Regions from separate parts of the Homo sapiens genome. Here all the other regions are linked to region 4. The links come from fine-mapping of genetic effects on gene expression. A gene starts in region 4. Each other region holds a variant in brackets. All regions are shown on one strand. Distances are from middle to middle. Region 1 has its middle 32 kb from the start of DOCK9-DT. Region 2 has its middle 27 kb from the start of DOCK9. Region 3 has its middle 22 kb from the start of DOCK9-DT. Region 4 holds the start of DOCK9-DT (DOCK9 divergent transcript).

Evidence for each region. PIP is the estimated chance that this variant, and not a neighbour inherited with it, causes the effect.
Region 1: its variant is the best candidate, but not a certain one, in a credible set for the expression of DOCK9-DT in aorta (GTEx, PIP 0.57).
Region 2: its variant is the best candidate, but not a certain one, in a credible set for the expression of DOCK9-DT in tibial artery (GTEx, PIP 0.52).
Region 3: its variant is the best candidate, but not a certain one, in a credible set for the expression of DOCK9-DT in whole blood (TOPMed, PIP 0.62).

The regions. Positions count from the first base shown.
Region 1 is chr13:99,052,495-99,057,494 of GRCh38, reverse strand. It overlaps a transcript of DOCK9 not described here. Among named protein-coding and RNA genes, the nearest start is that of DOCK9-DT, 32 kb to the left of the region's middle. The variant C/G (reference allele first, on the strand shown) is at 1,980.
Region 2 is chr13:99,003,000-99,007,999 of GRCh38, reverse strand. It overlaps a transcript of DOCK9 not described here. Among named protein-coding and RNA genes, the nearest start is that of DOCK9, 27 kb to the right of the region's middle. The variant C/A (reference allele first, on the strand shown) is at 2,560.
Region 3 is chr13:99,105,131-99,111,406 of GRCh38, reverse strand. No RefSeq gene overlaps it. Among named protein-coding and RNA genes, the nearest start is that of DOCK9-DT, 22 kb to the right of the region's middle. The variant C/T (reference allele first, on the strand shown) is at 3,240.
Region 4 is chr13:99,083,679-99,089,773 of GRCh38, reverse strand. DOCK9-DT (DOCK9 divergent transcript) reads right to left here and starts at 3,051. Exons shown (of 1, transcript NR_047482.1): 1 at 1,149-3,051. It also overlaps a transcript of DOCK9 not described here. RefSeq lists enhancers at 1,366-1,925, 2,488-3,049 and silencers at 1,930-2,159, 2,740-2,799, 2,890-3,199, 3,240-3,719.

The DNA of each region.
Region 1 (5,000 bases), 32 kb after region 4:
GGCTTAGTAAAGAAATCAGAGGCGCAATGAAGATCTGGTCCTCAGCTCACCCAGGACTTACCGTGCCTTAGTGGCAGGGTAATTGTCTCAAAATTAAGATTTAAGAATACCATTTTCCCCCTATTCAGTGGTTACCTGTTTTGTGCTGTAAGATTTCAGGCCCAATATGTCAACTCGTAACATTTTGAGACTACTACTTATTTTTTCTTGTCTGTATGCTAGGAATTAGATGTGTTAATTTGGACTCTTGGTTGCAAGTGACAGAAACTCATTCCAAGTAATTAAAGGAAAAAAGGGATATATGTTGTAAGGACACAGTATGTCTCCAAGAACTAAAGGGTGGGGGTCCAGCTGAGTGTATTGAGGGGGTCCCAGCCTTCAAGATCCTCTCTTATCTCGGCTGCTCTCTAGAGTTTTTGGGTCCTCTGCCTGGAGATTGACTTTCTTTGCTTCTAGTCTACATGGTAGGAATTCGCTGTCTGAGAGACCAGCTACTTGGCAAGAAACTGGTCCTTCTCTCAGGCTGCTCTAATCCCCCAGGGAGGTGATCCACATTGGGTCCGATACCAAGTCATGGGGTCATCTGTAGGAATGTGGCTTCTCGGATCCCCGCTGCTGTACGCATGGCTCCTCAGGGCCACTGTCTTTCCTCAGGGCGAGGAGCTGCTCCTTGGCCTCCAGGGAAGGCCTGTCCTGGGGGGCCTTGCATCAGACCTGGCATGAATGACCCTGATTGCCACTGGGGGAAGGGAAAGAGGACATCTCAGAAAAACAACACGTTACAGGGAAAGGGAGGTGCCGGGCAGCCACCCCAGCAGGTGTACTCTCCATTAAATTTATTTTAGCTGAGAAAATAGAATTGGTGGGGGAGGAGTTTGTTGCCCCCAAACATAAATCCATCCAGAAATGACTTCTAGGTTGCTCATTTCTTTGCTCTGGGTGACTGGGAGCTGGTTTTTTAGCCAAGTCTGGGCCACACCTAGTTGAATCATTACAGACATAATATCTTTTTTCCCCTCAGTTAATGTATAAACTAATATTACTTATCTTTTTTAAAGATATTAATGTATCTTTATAATACTTTTGCATATTTAGTATGTAACCTTACTTTGATAATGTTTTCCAGTAAGATTTGTTGCTTTAAAAGACAAACTCTCAAACAACTTTATCAGTACCATTTAATGTGCCCAAACAATGTCAAACAAGCAATGATTGGATAGCCAGGGAAGCTGAATTGCCTGTTATTAGTTTGTATGGTGAAACATCTCACAATTGCACTTTCAAAAGTATTTTTTACATATATATTCTAAAAATGATCAAAACATTTGGCACTCCGTTTACAGGAAAAAAATATATATTTCCAGGGAAACTCTCTATGTTCACTAAACTGGAAAGACCTTGTGGAATTTAAATTTGTCATCTTCAAAGGCTTTGGTATAGAATACAGTAACCAGACCAGGTTCTGTTTCATTCAGCTACAAAGGCACTTTTGTTGTTACCATTCCACGTCCCTGTGATGCTTAGTGCAGCTGATATTTGGTCCTGACAGTGCTTTTGGAAAGCTTGGCTGATTTCTGAAAAAAATCCCAGATTCTTTGGCCTAGGAATTTATCATAGGCCTCAGATCCTGGGTCTAGTCACTGCAGACAGCTAGTATATGTTAAAAGCTGTCTTAGCCTGTATCTAGTGTCTGTCTTCATTTAAGGCTGGAGAAAGGCTGTACAGGCTTATTAGGCACAGCTGTTAGGAACCTAGAGAACAGTTGACAACTGTGTGCAATATTATGGTAATAGTATAACTTATTAATAATATCAATGTAGTCAATATTATCAATGTAATTGAGTAATACAGCTTAGGCCACAAAGAACTGCATATAGTTTTCCATTAAAATCCCAATCCACATTCCATATGCCTCTCTTCCTGCTCTGCCCTGCACAACTGACCCTGTGCGCCTGGCTGCTCCTCTCTTCTAATTTCTC[C/G]CATTGCGGTCCCCTCCACAGTTAAGCACCGGCTCGCTTTCTCTTAGGTGCGATGCCCCCTTCCCCGCACTGGAGGCTGCCCAGCCAACGCAGACGTTCCCACTTCCTGTTCACACAGAATCGCCTCTTCCTTTCTCATTTCTCACAGGGAGTCCTCTTTTCCTGCTACCGCATGGGGACACAGATTTTGTTTTTGAAAGTTTGTAGAAAGTTCCTTTAGTGCTAATCTCCAATGGGACCCTACCCTACACAGAGGGCAAGTTATTTTCTTCCCATTCTGTTTTTTGGAACTTTTATTTAATTTCAGACTTATATGAAAAGTCAAGGATAGTATAAGGAAGTCCTGGTGTACCCTTTAACTAGATACCCCGGTTGTTTCAAATTATTATTTTTTGCTAATCCATAGTAGTAGAGTAATGGGCCATTCATTCATATGTTCATTCAAGAAAATTTCATAGCAGAACCTTTGTGCAAAAAAAGTGGATGAGGCAATTCTTTCCCTGCTTCATTTCTACTATTAGCAATTCATGACTGATTTAGCTCTTTGGTTTGTGAAATGGATGACTGAAAACCTCTCCTAAGTTAGGAAAGTAAGTGAAGAAGGCACTTTAAAACTGAGGTGCCATCTTTTTTGTCTTCTCTGTGGGATATTCATTTAAAATTTTTCTCGTAGTAAAGGCAAGCACAGATGGAAGGTGGTATAAGGTTCAGCCTCATCCCTTAACTTCAGCCTGATGGTGCTTGTGATAGTGCTTGATTTGCTGGTGATACTGGCGTAGTTAAGAATCTCCCAGCTTAGGAGAGAGAACTTAACATGGCAAAGGTAAAAAGAGGAGCAGGTTTCATCAGACTATTGTGCTTTATGCTTGAGGCAGGGCAGTAGCAATGGAAGAACTTAGATGTGATTCTGGGCTTATGCCTTCCCTCTTGCTTGCCCTCAAACCCTGTCCAACCAACAACTAACAGCAAACCAAGTTTTTAGATTTATCACAGTTAGGGACTTAACTGCTTTATGTGGACTTGTGTGGCTTTCTCAGCTATTCTGTAAAACCTGCTTTATTACCATTGCTATTATTTCTGCTGTTGTGAGCTCAGTGTCAGTGTCTGGTTGTTAGGATGTACAAAGATTCTGGGTGAGGCTATGTTGGTCTAGAGCTCTAGGTTATAGTGGGCCATGGAAGCCCACCTTTCAAATTTTTGGCGAGGCCACAAATTACCCCATTAAGGGTCTCAGAGCATGGAGAGTAATGTTTTTATGTTTTAATTACTCTAGACCAAGGCTGTTTTTTTTCTAAGTGAGAGCACTAATATTTGTAATTTTGCAGCCATTGGGTTTATAAATATGCCTGAGTAATCCCCATGAACTAGATTTTAGAGTGAGCCACCAGAAGAGTCTCCTCTTTTGAGATGCGGCAAAGAATTGCAGTGTCTTACAGTGGAAAAGGAAGACAGTGAAAAATGATCTATGCAGAAATTCACCCCTGGTTTTGGCTTTTGACTTCTTCATGACTCCCCTTTCTTGCTTACCGTGTTAGGCAGATAATCTTCTTTGAGATGTGGTAGTCAGACTAACTCAGCCCCATCTGCTTTGTGTTTTTTTTTCAATGCAAGATTAACCCTGCTTCCAAAACCTCCTGGTGTTTTCTTGGGAGTAGGAGGGTGAGTGAGGGGAGGTGGAGGGTGTGGGGTGCTTCGCTCCTCTTGTAATAACCCTCAAGTGTGTGCTATCTGATGGGCCCAGGCCACATGTTGTGCTATCGCTGGGGACCAGGTAACAGTCTGAGGTTTCTTGGTTACAGTAACTGATCCTCACTCCAGGCCCTGGCAGGAAGGAGAACCCTCCTGCAGTTACTGAAACCTGGTTCCCGGTTTTAATTTCTTTAATTCTTTTGTACAAGGGTCTGAGTTACAGAGGTTTCTCCTTGTCTCAGAAAGTTCTTACCATTGGCTTTAAATAAAACCAGGTGGCTTTCTTGGTTCAAGTGGCTTACAGAAAGAATACCTTAGAAAGCAATTTAATTCAATTACATTTAATTAAATTATATTGAATTTGAATAATTAAATTTATATTCTAAGTTTTTTTCTTAGAAGCATAATGAGCTATTTTAGAAATATGTATTAAGGTTGCTGGTTTTTTCCTTCTGCCACAAAACGTGATTTGCATGGGAAATTATTTATAGTAGCTTAGAATTCTGAACAAGAGTGACAAAATTTATCTTCTTTGCTCTCCTGCAAATTTGTATAGGCTTAGGAAATTTTGTCATTTAACAAAGCTCTTGAAATCTCTGTGGCTTAAGTTACTGTGGACATAATTCTTATCTGATTTCAATAGAAAAGGACAGTAGGGATGTGAACACAGTGGCAGCTGGGAGAGGGCGCAGGAGTGATGTTAGTGGTAATCTATTTTATTTTCAGGTGTGTTTAGGAACTGGGCTCCTGGAGACAACCAAGAAATTGGGAACTGGAAGTGGTTTGACTGAAGGAGTAATGGGAGAGACTTCATCCCAACGGCGAATCCCTACTGAGGCCTGAAAAACCTACCATTAGAAATTCATTAGCATCAATAGAGTGGAGAGACAGCCAATGGAATGGGAGGATATATTTGCAAATTGTACATCTGATAAGGGATTAATATCCAAAACATATAAAAAACTCAACTCAAAGTGAGAAAACAACTCAGTTAAAAAATGGGCAAAGAGCCTGGGCAACATAGTGAGACCCTGGTCTCTACTTAAAAAAAAAAAAAAAGAAGGCTGGTGTGGTGGCATGTGTCTATAGTCCCAGTTACTTAGGAGTCTGACGTAGGAGGACCACTTGAGCCCAGGAGTTCGAGGCTGCAGTGAACCATGATTGCACCACTGCGTTGCTCTCCAGCCTGGGTGACACAGTGAGACCCTGTGTCTACCCCCACAAACCTCCCCAAAAAAAAGGGCAATAGCCATTTTTCAAAAGAAGACATACAAGTGGCCAACAGGTATATGGAAAAATGCTCAACATCAATAATCATCAGGGAAATGCAAA
Region 2 (5,000 bases), 81 kb after region 4:
ATTGTTTTCTTAGCAGATTTCCAGATCTGGAGTAGCTAGCTCAAAATATATTTACTTGTTAAAGGATTTTGGTATGTATAGCCAGACTACCCTCCAGAAAGATTATTTGGAGATTTTTAAAAATTCAAGATAAGAAAGTTTGTGTTCACCTCTTCTGACTTCGAGCAGTTTGTTTTCATCATTGCTATTTATGAAGTTGATGATGGGGTCACCTGTTGAACAGAATACAGTGACTTAGATTGCTGTATACTTAGGCAAGTAACACAGTCATATCAGGGTTCAAATTAGCACTAATTTTGCCTCTGCTTCTGGAAGCATGATCATGAGCATTCTTAAACATCCCAGGAGAGTTCTGAAATGTTCCATTGTGGGGGCTGGAATGTGTTTGTTCTGAGAGGTCTTCACCCTTTTAGAGTTGATATAGCTATTTCATGGATATTCAGAAGTAAAGAGCAGCAGCAGAAATACTGAGTAGAAACAGATGAATAAAGCTGCTACTGCTTTGCTGAAGTTGATTTCTATTTCTCCCATGGCCTTAGTGAGAAGCAGTGACCTTTTTGCTTTTTATTTTTTAATTTTTAAATTAAATTAAATTTTTATTTTTATTTTTTTTGAGATGGAGTCTTCTTCCGTCACCAGGCTTGAGTGCAGTGGTGCAATCTTAACTCACTGCAACTTCCCCTTCCTGGGTTCAAGCAATTCTTGTGCCTCAGCCTCCCGAGTAGCTGGGATTACAGGCACGTGCCACCACACCCAGCTAATTTTTGTATTTTTAGTAGAGACAGGGTTTCACCATGTTGGCCAGGATGGTCTTGATCTCCTGACCTCGTGATCCACCCGCCTCTGCCTCTCAAAGTGCTGGGATTACAGGCGTGAACCACTGCACCTGGCCTAAATTTTATTTTTTTGAGACAGGGTCTGGCTCTGTCACCCAGGCTGGAGTACAGTGGTGCAATCTTGGCTCACTAAAGCCTCTGCCTCCTGGGCTCAAACCATCCTGCCACCTAAGCCTCCTGAGTAATTGGGACTACAGACAAGCACCACCATGCCTAGCTAACTTTTTGTATTTCTTATAGAGACGGGTTTTCACCTTGTTGTCAGGTTGGTCTGGAACTCCTGAACTCAAGTAATTCACCCACTTTGGCCTCCCAAAGTGCTGGGATTACAGGTGTGAGCCACCACACCCCACCATGCTTTTTGCTTTTTAAAAGTAACATTTGTTGTCTTTTATATTTAGAATACATAAGTACTGTAGAAAATTTAGAGACCACAAAGAAGAATAAGAGGAAAACAAAAATTACCCATAACTCACAGCCCAGAAACCAAAACTGCTTAATTTGTGGTATGTGTTTTCTGATATTTTTCTCTGCTTCTGCAAATATTAAAAAAGGGATAATTGTCCATAAAAATTTCTGATGCATTTTTCACTTACTGTATTTTATTATGAGCATTTTCTTATGCCCATAAAGTTCTGCTAAAACATGATTTAACATATGTATAGTATTCCATTGTAATATATGTACGGGAATTTATTTAAATACTTCTCTGTTGTTCAGTATTTAGGTTGTTATAAATCGAGATTACAGAAGACATCTTTACCCAAAAATCTGTGTGGATCTATAGTTATTTTTGTAGGCTAGATTTATAAAAGTGAACTTGCGAAGAATGAATTTTTTAAAGGCCTATTAAGGCATATTGTTTTATTGTGTGATGACTGATCCAAGTTACACTCCTAGCAGCAGGGACTATTAGTGCTTTTTTTATATATGATCCTGGCTAGCATCATTTTTGCCAGTTTGAGAAACAAAAGATAACACCTTTCAAACTCTAAATCCTTCGTTATCTTCATCACGTGTTTCTCTGTTTTGTCATTTGCCTTTTGATTTTGTTTAATTTCTTTATGGTACTTATTTTACTAACTGAGGTTTGAATGTAAATGGTATACATAACCATCTTTTCCTCTGTGGTTTCTTCCATTACCTTTATGCTTAGAAATTCTTGCCTATCTGAGATCAGATATTCACCAGTATTTTCTTTTGGAATTTGTTTGTTTATTTACTATTTGTCTTTTCCCCTCAGGGTTAGCAGACTAAGTCTATGGGGCAAATCTGGCCTGCTGTCTGTTTTTGTAAATAAAGTTTTATTGCCACATAGCCACATTTGTTTTTTTATATTGTCCAGGCCTGCTTTAATGGTGCTAGAGTTGAGTCATTAGGACAGACACTTATTTAAGTCAGCTGATAAAGTCACCTGATAAATATTATCAGCTGACCTAAAATATTTACTAGCTGGCCCTTTGCAAAAAGTTTGCTGTGCCCTGCTTTAGTAGATTTAGAATTTATTTGGATTTATAGTTTAGTTAAGATCCTAATTCAATTTCCTACCCATTTTTCCCAGTCCCATGTTGAATAATCCATTCCTTACTCAGTGGTTTGTGATACTGCCTTTATTATATTTTATGTTCTTTTATATACTAGGCTTTGCAACAATTGGAAGAAAACCCTAAGGCCTTTTCCTTTTTCCCCTACTCCCCATTTTTTTCTTTAGTGTTCTCTGTGC[C/A]CTGCAAAAGCAAGGTTCTTATACAGCTGTCAGTTTAATTGCAATTCAGGAAAAATGAAAACAAGAAATTTGGGGAGAGACATAAATTCTATAATTTAAAGATAGAATAAACAGACTGTACTGCGTAAGTTGCTGAATTAAGTGATCTTATGAGACATATTGGTTAAGATTCAGGAGCTAAGGGTTAAGGTTTAAGTGAGCAGTTAATTATATTTGTAGGTTTGTTTCCTCAGTAAATAGCCTGTTCATAAAATAGATCAAGCTTGTCTTTATGTGGACTCTCTGGGGCATTTTGATGAAAGAAAAATTCCAGCGTGGCAGCTGCATCCTCAAGTAACCTTGATTTGAATCTACTCTTTTTTTTTTTTTGGTATATCCGGTCTTTGCTAACAAAAGAAGTCCCAGCAAAATATAAGCAAAGGTGCTAGCAGAGTTTCCAAACAAAGTCTATTCATGTCTGCAGGAAATATATCTGTACATTTATAGATGAAGAGTACATTCTGGTTTTCCTTTTATACATTATACAAATTCTAAGGATAATTAATTTCCCTCCTTAACTAGATTTTATAGTGTATACGAAGGTTTGGATATGAATATGTGTGTGTGAAGTACATGTGACTGTGTGTGTGTGTGTGTGTGTGTGTGTGTGTGTGTGTCTATAGTTTTTTGGTCAATGCAGTACTAGAATATTGAATAAAGGTGTACTTTACTATTTTTCAAATGTCAATGAACAATGAATGACCTCATCCTAGGATACGTTTCAATCAGCATTTGTTTCTCTGCCAAGGAAAAACACATATCCTAGGAGACTCAAAGTAGAAATGACTTGTGAACAGAAGCAGAGGGACCACTTGGAGCCAATTGCCGATGATAGGTGTTTTCTCTGCTTCTTGAGTAGGTTCTGCCTTTGCAGAGTCTGTGGAGTGAGACTGTTTATGGGATTCTCAGATGCAGTCCTGTATGCTAAATAGTTTTATGGATGTTTGGTATTTCCTGTATATTTTCTAGGCTTAAGAAACAGGTAACAACATTATCAAAGACTCAGTCTTGTAACTTATTATTTCCTTGTGCTTTCTTTATTGTTGAAGAACAACTGGAAGAGAATCCTGAGGTCTTTTCCTTGTTCTCCCCCAACCTCCCATATTTTCTTCAGTTCTCAGACATCCATTGGATGTTTGCCAATTACAGGGTGGTATGATATGAAAGAGTCATAATCTCTGCTCTCAGAGGGCCCATAAGGCTGCCACGTGGGATATGGGCCATGATGGGGGTAAGCACAGGTACCACAAGCACCTACGCAGGGCTCCTTGTAGAAGGATTTAACCAGGTGAAGGAGAAGGAGAGGGACGTTTCTGCAGAGGGAGCAAAGTCCCAAGGAGGGAGAGCTGAGGGCTCCTTGGAACTGCTAGTAATTCCACAGTGCTGGAGGGGGCTTATCAGGCTGTAGGACAATGGTGGGAGTAGAAGGGTGACCAGTGAGGCTGGAGAGGTAAGCAGGGGACATATCATGGTGGGTCTTGTTGGAACTTTATTCCTGTATTAGAGGGAAGCCATTTAGTGAAGGTTTTAAAGAAACATGTTCATGTTTTTAATGAATCTCATACTGTACTTATCCTGCAGGGTGGATAACGGCTTAGAGAAAGGAGAGGTCTCAAGACAGGAACACTAGTGAGGAGGTCATTGGGGGGTCACAGGTGATGGTGGCCTGAAGCAGGTGGTGGAGGAGATAGAAGATTTAAGAGAGTGTTAAATGAGAGATTTGGCAGTTAAATAAGAGACAAGGAGTCAAGAGTGTTGGTATTTGTGCCCTGGGCACCTCCAGGGTGCCACCTGCTGAGGTGGGAGCACTGAAGGAATGGATCAGGAAGAATTGGGAAAGGAGGATTTCAGTTCCAGACATCTTGAGTTTGAGGTTTAGCGCATCACAACATGTAAACCAGTGGGATGCGACTAGTAGGACCATAGCTAGAGTGTGGATCCCAGCACAGACAGATGTCTGGTAATGAAGGATGGAAGGGGATGAGATCTCCTGGTGAGCGTATTCAGAAGGCAAAGAGCCAAGGGCCCTGGAAGGGACAGGAGAAGGAGCTGGGAAAGGAGCCTGGAGCTGAGTGCTCAGGGATGGGGAGAGCCTGCTGTGCATCTGGAAACAGAATCTTAGCTAAAGAAATAAATGCCAACGGCTTGAAGACCTCTGTCTGAGTGTGTTTGTTTAAGCCTCTTGCCTCTAGTTCACCAACACCATCATCTTTACTGTCCGCAGGAACATTTAACAAAATATGTTATGTGCACACCATCCTTTTAGGCACAACAGAATTTCAAGGTATCCCCTTGGCCTGGAAGGGGCTTGTGTAGTAGACTGGGGAAAGAATTGATCATTGAATAAAACCATTCTCTTCTTCTTTCCCCTCCCCTCCCCTCCCTCCATCAGAAGAGCAGAC
Region 3 (6,276 bases), 22 kb before region 4:
AGCAGGAGCAAACTGAGATTTCCTATAGGCAAATGCCATCACCTTAATGAATAAACAGAATTTTAGGCCAATAGAAGATATCGTTTTGAGTAGGAAAAGAGGAGTGGGGAAGGAACCACTGGACTCTCCCACAAATCACATTCCTCACCTTCCATAGTGGTGGTCCTACCACCTTGGGAAATCTTTTTCTCCTCTCTTCCAGAAGCTGCTATTGTATATCATCTTCAAAGGTCAACTAATCTTTGATAATTGCAGATAATTAAGAGTTGGATATATTAGGTCCAATGGTTGATTTTGATTATTCATTTTTAATGCTGAAAAATGAAAGTATTTCTCTATTTAATAAGTTCATTGCTATGGCAACCCCAACGAAGTAATCACAACCTTGTAAATCAATAATAATAAGGTGTATGTAAAATACACATTTATATAATTATATTTGTTCCATATAATTATATATAATTATACCTTAGATTTAAGTATTCCTTTTATTTGATAATGTGTGTTTTATGGAAAACTACATACTTTATTCGTGAGATGGGAACGCTCCCTGGATGGCTGAATGGGAGTGAGAGGAAATATTCTACCCTAGGATCCCCTAAAGTGCCTTCAGATGTGTTTTATAGCATTCATTATGCTTTAAGAAAGGTTCACTAGACACGAATAGCAATAGAAACTGTGTTGCACATTTCCCTCCTGCATTTTTACACCACAGAAATGTGGATCTGTCTTAAAAGTGATAGCATGATAATCATTATTGACAGAGAGACCATGATAATGGTCATTGCCTGTGAACATATGACCTTGGTTGTTATTCATAGTTGAATAACTGGACAACGGACATCCCTGGTATTTAATCAATAAACCATTTAAGATCCACACGTGGGAAGAGTATGAGTCCTGGTGTTGTCAGAAAACATTCCATTGATACCTTCTGATAATATCAGGAAAGTGTCAGCAATGGATGAGGAAAACCCAATTTGTTACATTTTCCTTTTAGGGATCATACTCTTGATGAAGAGTCCAAGAACTCTGCCCCGTCCTAGGCCCCAAAGATTTTCCCTTTTTTCTGCCTTCTTTTTCCCTTCTTTTTAGAGATAGGATCTCAGTGCTGTCACCTAGGCTGGAATATAGTGGCACAACCATAGCTTACTGTAACCTCCAACTCTTGGGCTCAAGTGACCCACCTGTCTCAGCCTTCTGAGTAGCTCAGACTGCAGGTGCACATCACCACACCCAACAATTTTTTTTTTTTTTTTTTTTTTTTAGAAACAGGGTCTTGCTATATTACCCAGTCTGGTCTCGAACTCCTGGCCTCAAGCAATCCTCCTGCCTTGGCCTCCCAAAGTGCTGGGATTACAGGCATGAGCCTGTAATCGTCAAATAGTTTCAGTAAAAATAAATCGAGAATACTGCCTTCATTTAAAAACCTGAGAATTGTTCCTTCCTCTTTTATTCTTCTGAAGAGAGTGTATAGAATTAGTGTTAATTCTTCTTTAAACATTAGGAGAATTGTCCAGGAAAACCATTAGCGCCTGCAGATTTCCCTTTTGGAAATTTTAAAATTGTAAATTAAGCTTCCTTTATGCATAGGACCATTCAAATGATGTTTTTCATATTGGAAGAATTGTAGGTTTTTTTTGTTTTGTTTTGTTTTGTTTTTTTTTGAGACGGAATCTCATTCTGTCACCCAGGCTGGAGTGCAGTGGCGCCATCTCGGCTCACTGCAACCTCTGCCTCCCAGATTCAAGCAGTTCTCCTGCCTCAGCCTCCCAAGTAGCTGGGATTACAGGCATATGCCACCATGCCCGGCTAATTTTTTTTGTATTTTTAGTAGAGACAAGGTTTCACCATATTGGCCAGGCTGGTCATGAACTCCTGACCTTGTGATCTACCCACCTCAACCTCCTGAAGTGCTGGGATTACAGGCATGAGCCACCGTGCCTGGCATGTCATTTTTTTTTGTTTTGTTTTTTGTTTTTTTTTTTTCCAAGAAATTGGTCCATGTATTTTAATTTGTCAAATGTATGTATGTAGAGTTATTAATAGTGTTTCCTTGTTATCTTTTTATGTCTGCAGGGTCTGTAGTGATGTCTTCTCTTTCCTTCCTGATATTGATAATTTGTATCTTGTCTCTTTTTTCTTTGTCTGTCTTGCTAAAGGTTTGTCAATTTTATTGATCTTTTCAAAGAACCATCTTTTTGTTTCGTTAATTTTTCTCTATTGTTTTTCTATTTTCAGTGTTGTTGATTTCTGCACTTTATTTCTTTCCTTCTACTTGCTTTGAGTTTATTTTGCTCTTTAAAACAATTTTTTTTTCTTTTTTTTTTTTTTTAGACAGGGTCTGGCTCTGTCACTCAGGCTGAAGTACAGTGGCCTGATATTGGCTCGTGGCAACCTTGACTGCATGGGCTCAAGTGATCCTCCCACCTCAGCCTCCTGAGTAGCTGGGACCACAGGCGTGTGCCACCATGCCTGGCTAATTTTTGTAGTTTTTGTAGAGACAGAGTTTTGTCATGTTACTCAGCTGGTCTTGAACTCCTGAGTTCAAGCGACCTATGGCCTCCCAAAGTGCTCAGATTACAGGTATGCTGCACCCAGCCTATATTTTTCTCTTTTTTATTTCTAGCTCTTAAGGTGGAATTTTAAATTACTGATTTTAGGGTTTTTTTCTCTATAAAAATATATGCACTTAGTACAGTACTTATATATTTCCCTCTTAGAATTGCTTTGTCCTACAAGTTTTGATATGTTATATTTTCTTTTTTTTTTTTTTTTTTTTTTGAGATGGAGTCTTGCTCTGTAGCCCAGGCCGGACTGCAGTGGTGCGATCTCGGCTCACTGTAAGCTCCGCCTCGCGGGTTCACGCCATTCTCCTGCCTCAGCCTCCTGAGTAGCTGGGACTACAGGTGCATGCCACCACACCCGGCTGATTTTTTGTATTTTAGTAGAGATGAGGTTTCACCGTGTTAGCCAAGATGGTCTCGATCTCCTGACCTCGTGATCCGCCCGTCTCGGCCTCTCAAAGGGCTGGGATTACAGGCGTGAGCCACCGCGCCCGGCGATATGTTATATTTTCATTTTCATTCAATTTAATGTATTTTTTTTTTCAGTTTCTCCTGAGACCTCATCTCTGGCCCCTGAACTATCTAGAAGTGTGTTGTTTAGTTTCCAAGTGACTAATTTCTAGTTTGATTCCACTGTAATCTGGGAACACACTACGTATGATTTTAATCAAT[C/T]TTTCTTTCTTTCTTTCTTTCTTTCTTTCTTTCTTTCTTTCTTTCTTTCTTTCTTTCTCTCTTTCTTTCCCTCCCTCCCTCCCTCTTTCTTTCTTTCTCTCTCCCTTTCTTTCTTTCTCTCTCTCTTTCCCTCCCTCCCTCTCTCCCTCTTTCTTTCTCCCTTCCCTCCCCTTCTCTTCCCTTTCTTCCCTCCCTTCCCTTCCCCTCCCTTCCTTCGTTCTTCCTTCCTTTCTCCCTTCCCTTTCCTCCCTTCCTCCCTTCCTCCTTTTCCTCTTTCTCCCTTCCTCCCCTCCTCCCCTCCTCCCTTCCTCGCTTCCTCGCTTCCTCCCCTCCTCCCCTCCTCCCTTCCTGCCTTCCTCCCTTCCTCCCTTGCTTCCTTCCTTCCTTCCTTCTTCAGACTCTCACTCTGTTACCCAGGCTGGAGTGCAACCTCCTGGGCTCGATTCTCCCACCTCAGCTCCCTTAGTAGCTGGGACTACAGACATGCGCCGCCACACTTGGCTACTTTTGTACTTTTTGGAGAGGTGGGGTCTCCCTATGTTGCCCAAGCTGGTCTCGCACTCCTAGGCTCAAGCGATCCATCTGCCTTGACCTCCCAAAGTGCTAGGATTACAGGCACGAGCCACCATGCCCGGCCTTAATTCTTTTACCTTTCTTGGGTTTGTTTTGGATGATCTTCTTTTTCCAGTATCTTAACACGGAAGATTATGTTGCTAATTTGAGATCTTTTTCATTTTTAGAAAAATTCAATGGCTTTTGATTAAAATTCAGTTTGCACATCTGTCATCGTGATCAATTTTGAGTCATTTTCATTATTCTAAAAAGACATCTTACACCTCTTATTTGTCGCCCTCAATCTTTCCACGCTATTCACTCTCCTAGGCAATTGCTGATCTACTTTCTGTCTCTATCTCTTTGCCTACTGTGGACATTTCATAAAAATAGAATTATATGATATGTGGTCTTCTGTGACTGGCTTCTTTCACTTAGCATACTGTTTTCAAGGCTCATACATGTTGTAGCAGGTTTTAATACTTCATTCCTTTTTATGGCTGAATAACATTCAATTGTATGGTTAAAATACATTTTGTTTGTCTGTTTACCAGTTGATGGACATTTAGGTTGCTTCCTTTTTTTGATATTATGACTAATGCCGCTATAAACATTTGTACACAAGTTTGTGTGTGAATATATGTTTTCAACTCTCTTGGATATATAATTAGGAGAGGATGTGCTTGATCATATGGCAACTCTATGTTCAATCATTTGAGGAGTTGCCAAACGGTTTTCCAAGGCAGGTGCACCATTTTATATACCCATCAGCAGTGTATGGGGGTTTTAATTTCTCCACATCCTCACCAATACTTATTATCTCTCTTAAATTATGGCTATACTAATGAGTATGAATGGTTTTACTTTTTTTTTTTTTTTTTTTTTTGAGACATCATCCAAGCTGGAGTGCAGTGGCATGATCACAGCTTGTTGCAGCCTCAGCCTTCTGGGCTCAAGTCATCCTCCTGCCTCAGCCTGGAACCACATGCATACCCCACCACACTCGGCTAATTAAAAAAAATTTTTTTTGTAGAAACTGGGGTCTTGCTATGTTGCCTGGGCTGGTTGTGAACTCCTAGTGTCAAGTGATCCTTCTGCCTCGCCCTCCCAAAATGCTGGGATTACAAGCCTGCCACTGTGCCTAGCTATGAATAGTTTTTCACGTCTTTCAGTTGTATTTTCCTAATGGCTAATAATGTTGAGCATGTGCTTATTGGCTATTTGTATATCTTCTTTGAGCATGTCTAATTAGGTTCTTTGTCCACTTTTAATTGAGTCATTTATCTTTGAATTGTAGGTGTTCTTTATGTATCTTAAATACAAGTCTCATCAGTTATATGATTTGTAAAAATTTTATCCTATTTGATGAGATATCTTTTCATGTTATTAATAGTGTCCTTTGAAGCACCAATGTTTTTCATTTTGAGGAAATCCAATTTATATAATTTTTCTTTGGTTGCTTGAGCTCTCTTGGTGTTGTGTTTGAGAAACCATTGTCTAACCCAAGGTTGTGAAGATTTATGCCTATATTTTCTTCTAAGAGTTTTATAGTTTTAGCTGTTATATTTAGGTCTGATTTATTTTGAGTTAATTTTTACACATGGTATAAGGTAAGGTTCCAACATTATTCTTTTTCATGAAGATATCAAGGTGTCCCAGGACAATTTTTTGAAAGAACTATTTTTCCGCATTAATTTTATCTGCACACTTGTCAAAAATCAATTGACCATAAATTCATGGGCTTATTTCTAGAGTTTTAATTCTACTCCACTGATTTATATGTCTATCCTTATGCCAACACCACAGTCTTGATTACTGAAGCTGTATAGTTATTTTTGAAATCAGAAAATGTGAATCGCCAGCTTTGCTGTTTTCAAGATTAGTTTGGCTATTCTGGGGCCCTTGGATTTCCATATGAATTTTAGGGTCAGTTTGTCAATTTCCACAAAAAATGTAGTTGAAATTTTGATAGGCATTGTGTTGAATCTCTACTGCTACCTGTTTTTGCATTGGCCATAAACTCAGAATGGTTTACGTTTTGAAATTATTGAAAAAAAGTCAAAAGAAGAATAATATTTCATGTCAAGTGAAAATTATACAAAGTTCAAATTTCCATGCGTATAGAGTTTCACTGGAACACAGCCATGCTTGTCAATTTTTGTATTACCTATGGCGGCTTCAGCACCACAGTGACAGAGAGGAGCAGTTGCAACAGAGACGTTTTGGCCAGCAAAGCCTACAATATTTACTAACTGGTCCTTTCCAGAAAGTTTGCTGACCCTTGCTCTAGACAATGGCAAAGACTGAATAATCATTGCCTGAAAGTCCAAGCAAAATCAAACCCTAGGACTATAATCTTGGGCTGGAATTTTTCCTCCTATTCAAGGGGTTCTTGTTGTGCTATGTTTAGACCTGATGGAACTTGGTTTTTAAATTTTTTTCTAGTGTGATATGTAAATGTAGAAAGAGAGTGGCTGGACATGCA
Region 4 (6,095 bases):
GCAGAGGCTGCAGTGAGCTGAGACTGCACCACAGCACTCCAGCCTGGGCAACAGAGTGAGGCTCTGTCAAAACAAACAAACAAACAAACAAACAAACAACCATTCATACTGAATTAGGGCCCACCTATTCCAGTAGGACCTCACCTTAAGTTGGTTACATGTGCAAAGACCTATTTCCAATAAGGCCACATTCACAGGTACTGGGTTTGGAACTTCAATATATCTTTTGGGGGACTACAATTCAACCCAGAACAGTAGGGACCAAGTTTCTGCTGAAACTTTAACACTAGGAATGTCCCATTTGTTATCAACAGCACTTCACCAGGAAGAAGAGGCTCCACTCTGGGTTGCTGGGTCCATCTTCCTGGGCTTAGTTCACGTTTCCATGCCGCCTTGTCTGTCAGAACCTGTGCTTGGTTAGACATTGCCAGTGACTACTGTTGGCACATTGTCTGTTGTTCTCTGCTTCCTAAATGAAAATCTGCCAATTCTAGAATATACTGAATCAGCAAGTAAGTACAGAATTTAGGAGTGGTAGAGATATGGATAAAATTGGTAGGTTTGGGGAATTCTTCACTTTCCAGATATACATATATTTAAATAAAATTTATGGTAGGTCATTGTCTTGGACTGAGCTCCTGAACTAGGCCCCAACAGACCAGACTAAAATGAAGCCACTGTGTTAGGTGCCACGTAACTAAACAGAGATTTTAAAAAACAGGAAAATCCCCAAAAGGGCCAGTTTTCCAAAAACCAGGAGATTCACAGCAACCAGTCAAACGGGGCCCAGTCAGCCTGAGCCAGCTAAGGCAGCCCCCTCTGCTTTAACCCATAAAGGAGAGTAACCTGAAGTTACCCGATGTGCTTTCGGCACTATGCTTTTCCCTTGTTCCTGCTTAAGTTACCTTAACAAAACCCAGCTGTTCTTCCATTCCCACAAGAGCTCCCGTCTATTTTGTAGTCAGAATGCTGCCTGGTTCATGCATTGCTAATAGAAGCCAATTAGATCTTTAAAACCATTTGTTGAAATTTTGTTCTTTAGACTACACACACACACACACACACACACACACACACACACTCTACTGTAATCATATAGCTCTTAAAAAAAGAAAAGAAAAAAGAATATAAAACCCTACAACCTTAGGTGCTTTTGTTGTTGTTTTTAATTTAAAAAGACAAAATTGTTCGCCTTGTATAGAAGTAGATACAGCTTAGAGAGCCAAGGTAACAAGAGGGGAAAAGTTTGTGTTGTCTGGTACTTTTGAGGGAGTCAGAAGCCTAAAGGGAGGCTCTAACTCATGATTCTCAGAAGACAACTGTTGTCAACAGTTCAAATGAGAACTGAACGGCCACACTCCTGCAGCTGAAAGGAGTCAATGCGAGCTGAGTTGCTCTCACCGAACAGAGTGCGTTCCCCGGGGAGGCAGGGAAAGGCCGGCTTGCACCTGCTCTGTCACCCAGCTCCACTCTTAGGACAGAAGAGGTCTGGAAAATGTCTGGGCCATTCCCTCATTTCACGGAGGAGGAAATGGGTTAGTGTGTAATTGTTTTTATCATCACCCTTGTTTTATCTTTCAATCTGCCAGGCTCACTCAATGCTACATCCTGCAGTCCCCACCCACTGGAGAAACAATCCGATCCTGCAAGTAATTATTGAGTGCGGACGGCATACCTCACCTCCAGACCTGCCCATTAAACCCAGAACGGAGGTGTTTTGCTCTCTGCGCTAGATCGGTATTTTCCCCTACCACTTTAAGATTACGCTTCAGGCCAGTGTTAGGCTTTCTGGTGGGGTGGGACGCAACAGGCGGCCTCCTCCACCGCAGCGATGGCGGCTATGAAACCTCTGGGTATTTGGGCGGGAGGCGCGGCAGGTATTCTCCCAAAACTGGGTTTTCAAGACCACCACTCTCTGCGGAGGCCGACCCGGCAGGTAAGGAACTGTCCATCGGAAGGCAACGGGCGTGGCGTGAGCAGCCCGACCAATCAGCAGAGCCGCCGTTCAGTCAGGCTCCCCGCCCGGGGTACCCGCCCAGTCCCCAACCACTGAGCATGCGCCGCGGGCCTGGCGCAAATCCCCGCCTGGCGCGCCCTCTCCGCGGCCCTGTGAGGGTTAGGCTGCGCCGGGCTTCCTCAGAGAGACAGAAACGGAGCCGGGGCGGGAGCGGGCCCTTAGGGACAGGAAAGCGGTTAGGGTATTGGGGGGAAAGTCCCTCACAGGGTGGCTGTCGCTAGCGGCCGCCAGCTCTGCGTCACGGTGGGCTCGCAAGCCGGCGCATCGCAGTTTCCCTGGTACCCCGCCTGGCGGTCCGGCGCGGAGGGGCGGCAGACCGGCTAAATCGGCCCCAGTGAGGGCCGCCGTGTCACCTGAGCCCCTTCCAGGCCGTTGTCCTCAGGTTACAGGCGACATAACCGAGGCTCCGAAGTATTGCCCACGTCCAAGGTGACGCAGCTGGCCGTCCCGGCGGGCCGGAGTCTGGGAGTCTCCCACGCCTGGCCCGGCCCAACCGTCATCGTCCCGCCGCGAGCTCCGTGCCTCCGGGGACTGAACGGTGGGGAGGCCGAGGCGCCACACGAGCGCGCGGCGCCCCGCGCCAGGTTCCGAGCAGGGACGCTCCGTCCAGGTCCGCCTGGCCGGCCGCGGGTTCCGATCGGTGCCACATAAATAAAGGCTACTTTCCTGAGACCTCTGTCCCCGCAGAGGCCCCGGGCGCAGAGGGGGGGCGTGGTGCACCGAGCTCCGACCCTGCCGGTGACTTCGGGGTCCCCTCGAGCGCAGCCGGGCTCCCTGGGCAGGAAACCCTGCTCCGAAACCGCGCATCGTCCAGCCTCGGCTGTGCGCCCTCTTGGTGGCGTGCGCAGTCCCCTCCTCCGGTCTTCGGACGTGCGGCCCGGGGCGGAGGCGGCCCCGACCCCCCACCTTCCCCAGTGAGGGTCCCGCGCGGCACGCCGCCCCTGCCAGTCCGGCCGCCTAGCTCCAGCGCCGGGCCGCGCCGACCTGCCTGGCCCGCCGTCCCGCCGCGGCGGCCCCTCCTCCGCCGTCCGGGCGCCCCGCCCCGCCCGCGCCGCGCCGGACACCCCGCCCCGAGGAGGCGGCCCGGCGAGTGGTCGCCGAGGGAGGCTGGTGGCATGGGGGAGCCGCCGCCGCCACACGCACGGTCGCCCGGAGCGAGCCCGGGCGCTGCTGCGATCGCGGGGGGCCGCGGACGCCGAGGGGGGCGCCTTGGGGCGTGACACGGTGCAGAGGGCGCGGCCTGGGCTGCGGCGGCCGGACTCGCGGCGAGCAGCGGGGGGAGCAGGCGGCGGCGGCGCCGGGAGCGGCGGGCGGAGCGGGCCGGGCGCCGAGGGCGCACCTGGCGGCCGCGCGGCCGGGCCGGGCCGCGGGAGCAGGCGGAGGCGGAGGCGGCGGGGGCAGGAGGATGTCGCAGCCGCCGCTGCTCCCCGCCTCGGCGGAGACTCGGAAGTTCACCCGGGCGCTGAGTAAGCCGGGCACGGCGGCCGAGCTGCGGCAGAGCGTGTCTGAGGTGGTGCGCGGCTCCGTGCTCCTGGTGAGTGCGGGACGACCGCGGGCCGGGGGAGGATGGCGGGGGCGCAGGCAGCTGCGGGCCCCGGGCCGGGCGCCTCTTAGTCGGCAGGGCTGAGGCAGAGCGGCCGACCCTGCTGGGTCCGCGGAATCAAGAGGTGGGGCCGGCGGGAGGGAGTTGGACAGGGGAGAAGAGAAGGTCCTGGAGGGGCTGCAACTCCCAGACCCCTCCCCGCCACCCAAGATCCTGTCCCCATCGCTGTCCCCTTCCTCCTGGGAAATTTCCGCAGAGTGATGTCGCCCTGTCACTCTTTTCACCCCGCTCTCTCCCAATTTACCTGCTTTCTGTCAACTGGGAAATTACACTCTCCCCCCTCCCCCGCATCCCTCCCCCGTATCCCTCCCCCGGCCTCCCTCTCCTTCCATGTTTTGGAGGGGCGCAGGGGAATTGAGGTGGGGGCTTCCTCATCCAGTCTGCGCTCAGGGTGGGAGATGCCCCTGCTAACCCTTTGAGTTGGCTGAACTCCAGGAGGGAAGGACTTCGGCATCCTCTCCTGCGCCCCCCACCTCCAAGCCGGTATCCTGAAGTTTGGCCGCCTTTTAGGAAGGCTTGGGGGGCATGATGGGAACCCTCGCTAATTTAGTATTGGTGCAAATTCCTGTGACGTTTGGGGGTTCTAAGTAAGCAAAGCCATCAGCCCAAAACGAATCTTCCCGTGGCAGAACGTCTTTAGAGAATAGGCCTCTGGGTGTGAGGAAGATGAAGTTTTCGATTAACTTTTTCACAGCCAGCGCCGGTCCTGCTGTATTTGGAAACGCACTACAACCCGATTCACCTGGATGGTGCGGGAGTGGAGCGACGTTTGAGCAGGAGCGAGCTCTGCAGGGCAGCTGGAAACTTTTAGCAGCTCCTTGCGTTGCCGCCGGCATTTGTTTTCTTGAAACGGGCTTGTTTGTGGGTGGGTGTGACTTGTGTTTGTTGGAACAGTGCAAGAAGATGGGCCTTGGAAGTGGTTGTCTGGGCCCTGTGGGGGATTGTCGGGGCAGAGTGCCGGGCCCCTTAACACAGGGGCGGATGCATCATTTTGGTGGCAGATCGATGCCCTTCCTGGGCAGACACAGAATTGCGTGAATGACGTTTGTGGAGATTGGAGATGAAGCTTCGCTGATTTCTATATCCAGTTTGCTCAGTTTGAATTTTCTCTCGATTGCTAGCTCTGCCAACTCCAAATTTCTCCAACTCCAGTTTGATCCATAGTAAACAAGGATTTAATTTTTCTATTTTAGGGAAGTCGATTAGGTAAGGAGTAGAGCAGGAGTTGGGAATAGACCAGAACCTGGCCATCTCTTCCATAACCAGCTAACTTCTGTGTGGCTTCCTGCATCTTCCTGAGTTTTGCCAGTGCATGTTAAGGATAAAGCCTGCAACTTCTTTGGCATCTTTTCTGTTCTCACACAGAAGTTGGTTCCTTTATCTGGGGCCTGCCGTGGTCATCAGGGATTTGAGGCAGAAGAAGAGTAAATAAAGTGTACCAGTGTGCCATGATTTCCAAAGTGCTGCAGGTACTGGTTTAATAAGCCGTGTAGATGGAGCCCAGGAGTGCTGGTGCAGACACAACACTGCTGATGTGCAGTAGTCCCCGAATATCTGCCCTTCCCATCGGAGGATGGCCTACTAATGGTGACCTAGGAGTGTCCATTCCCACGTGTGACAGGCTGCCAACTGTGTTATCTCATGATACTTTAGTAGTACATCCGTTTTCCCTGGACACCCTTAAGCATGAAGAGCCAGATGCCCGGCTGTTGTCTTAACTCTTAGTCTCGTCTGTCTGTGGTCACTTGTCTGATGAAACCTGTGATGGAACAGATACAAAATGCAGGGAAGCAGGTGGGCCTGCTCTGGCATGTGAGGGCCCCTGGCTGAATGGGAAATAGGAAATGCATTGTGATGGTTCTGAATTGCAGAAGGAAGAATCTGGGAGGGCTTACAGATACTGAAAATTACCCACACACCTCATCCCCCCACCTCCTTCCTGGTACTCTGCCACTGCTTACTTCCTCTAGTGGCTCCAGTGTCTGCCAGGGAGCCACAGCAGGTGCACCTGCCACATAAGTTCTGGCCGGGCTTTGTTGTATGAAGGTCTAAGAGGTGAGGTAAGGTAACCCTGGACTTCTCAGGAGGCAGAGCAGCAACCACGCCAGGTTCAGAATCCCATGGTCTGTGCATCTGTCCTTAGATGGAAATAATTACTCTGTGTCTGATAACTTGGGTCAGCACTAATACAATGCCCACAACATAAATGCTCAATAAATATTCTTATCTAGCTAATAAAGCAGTTCTGCAGATGGATTTAAAAAAAATTAAACTATGTGTGGGTTTAGTAGCTCTTCCCACACTTCAAGTATTGATGAGTGGATGGTCATGAGATCAGAAACAACAAAATGAAATAGTTCAGTGGATGATAAAGGCTGCCATTAAAAACAAGCTTTAAAATGTAAACATAATGTGGGCTTATCCATTTTTCATTGTTCAATAGCTTCATTTTTCATGTGTTCAGGTTCATGGACT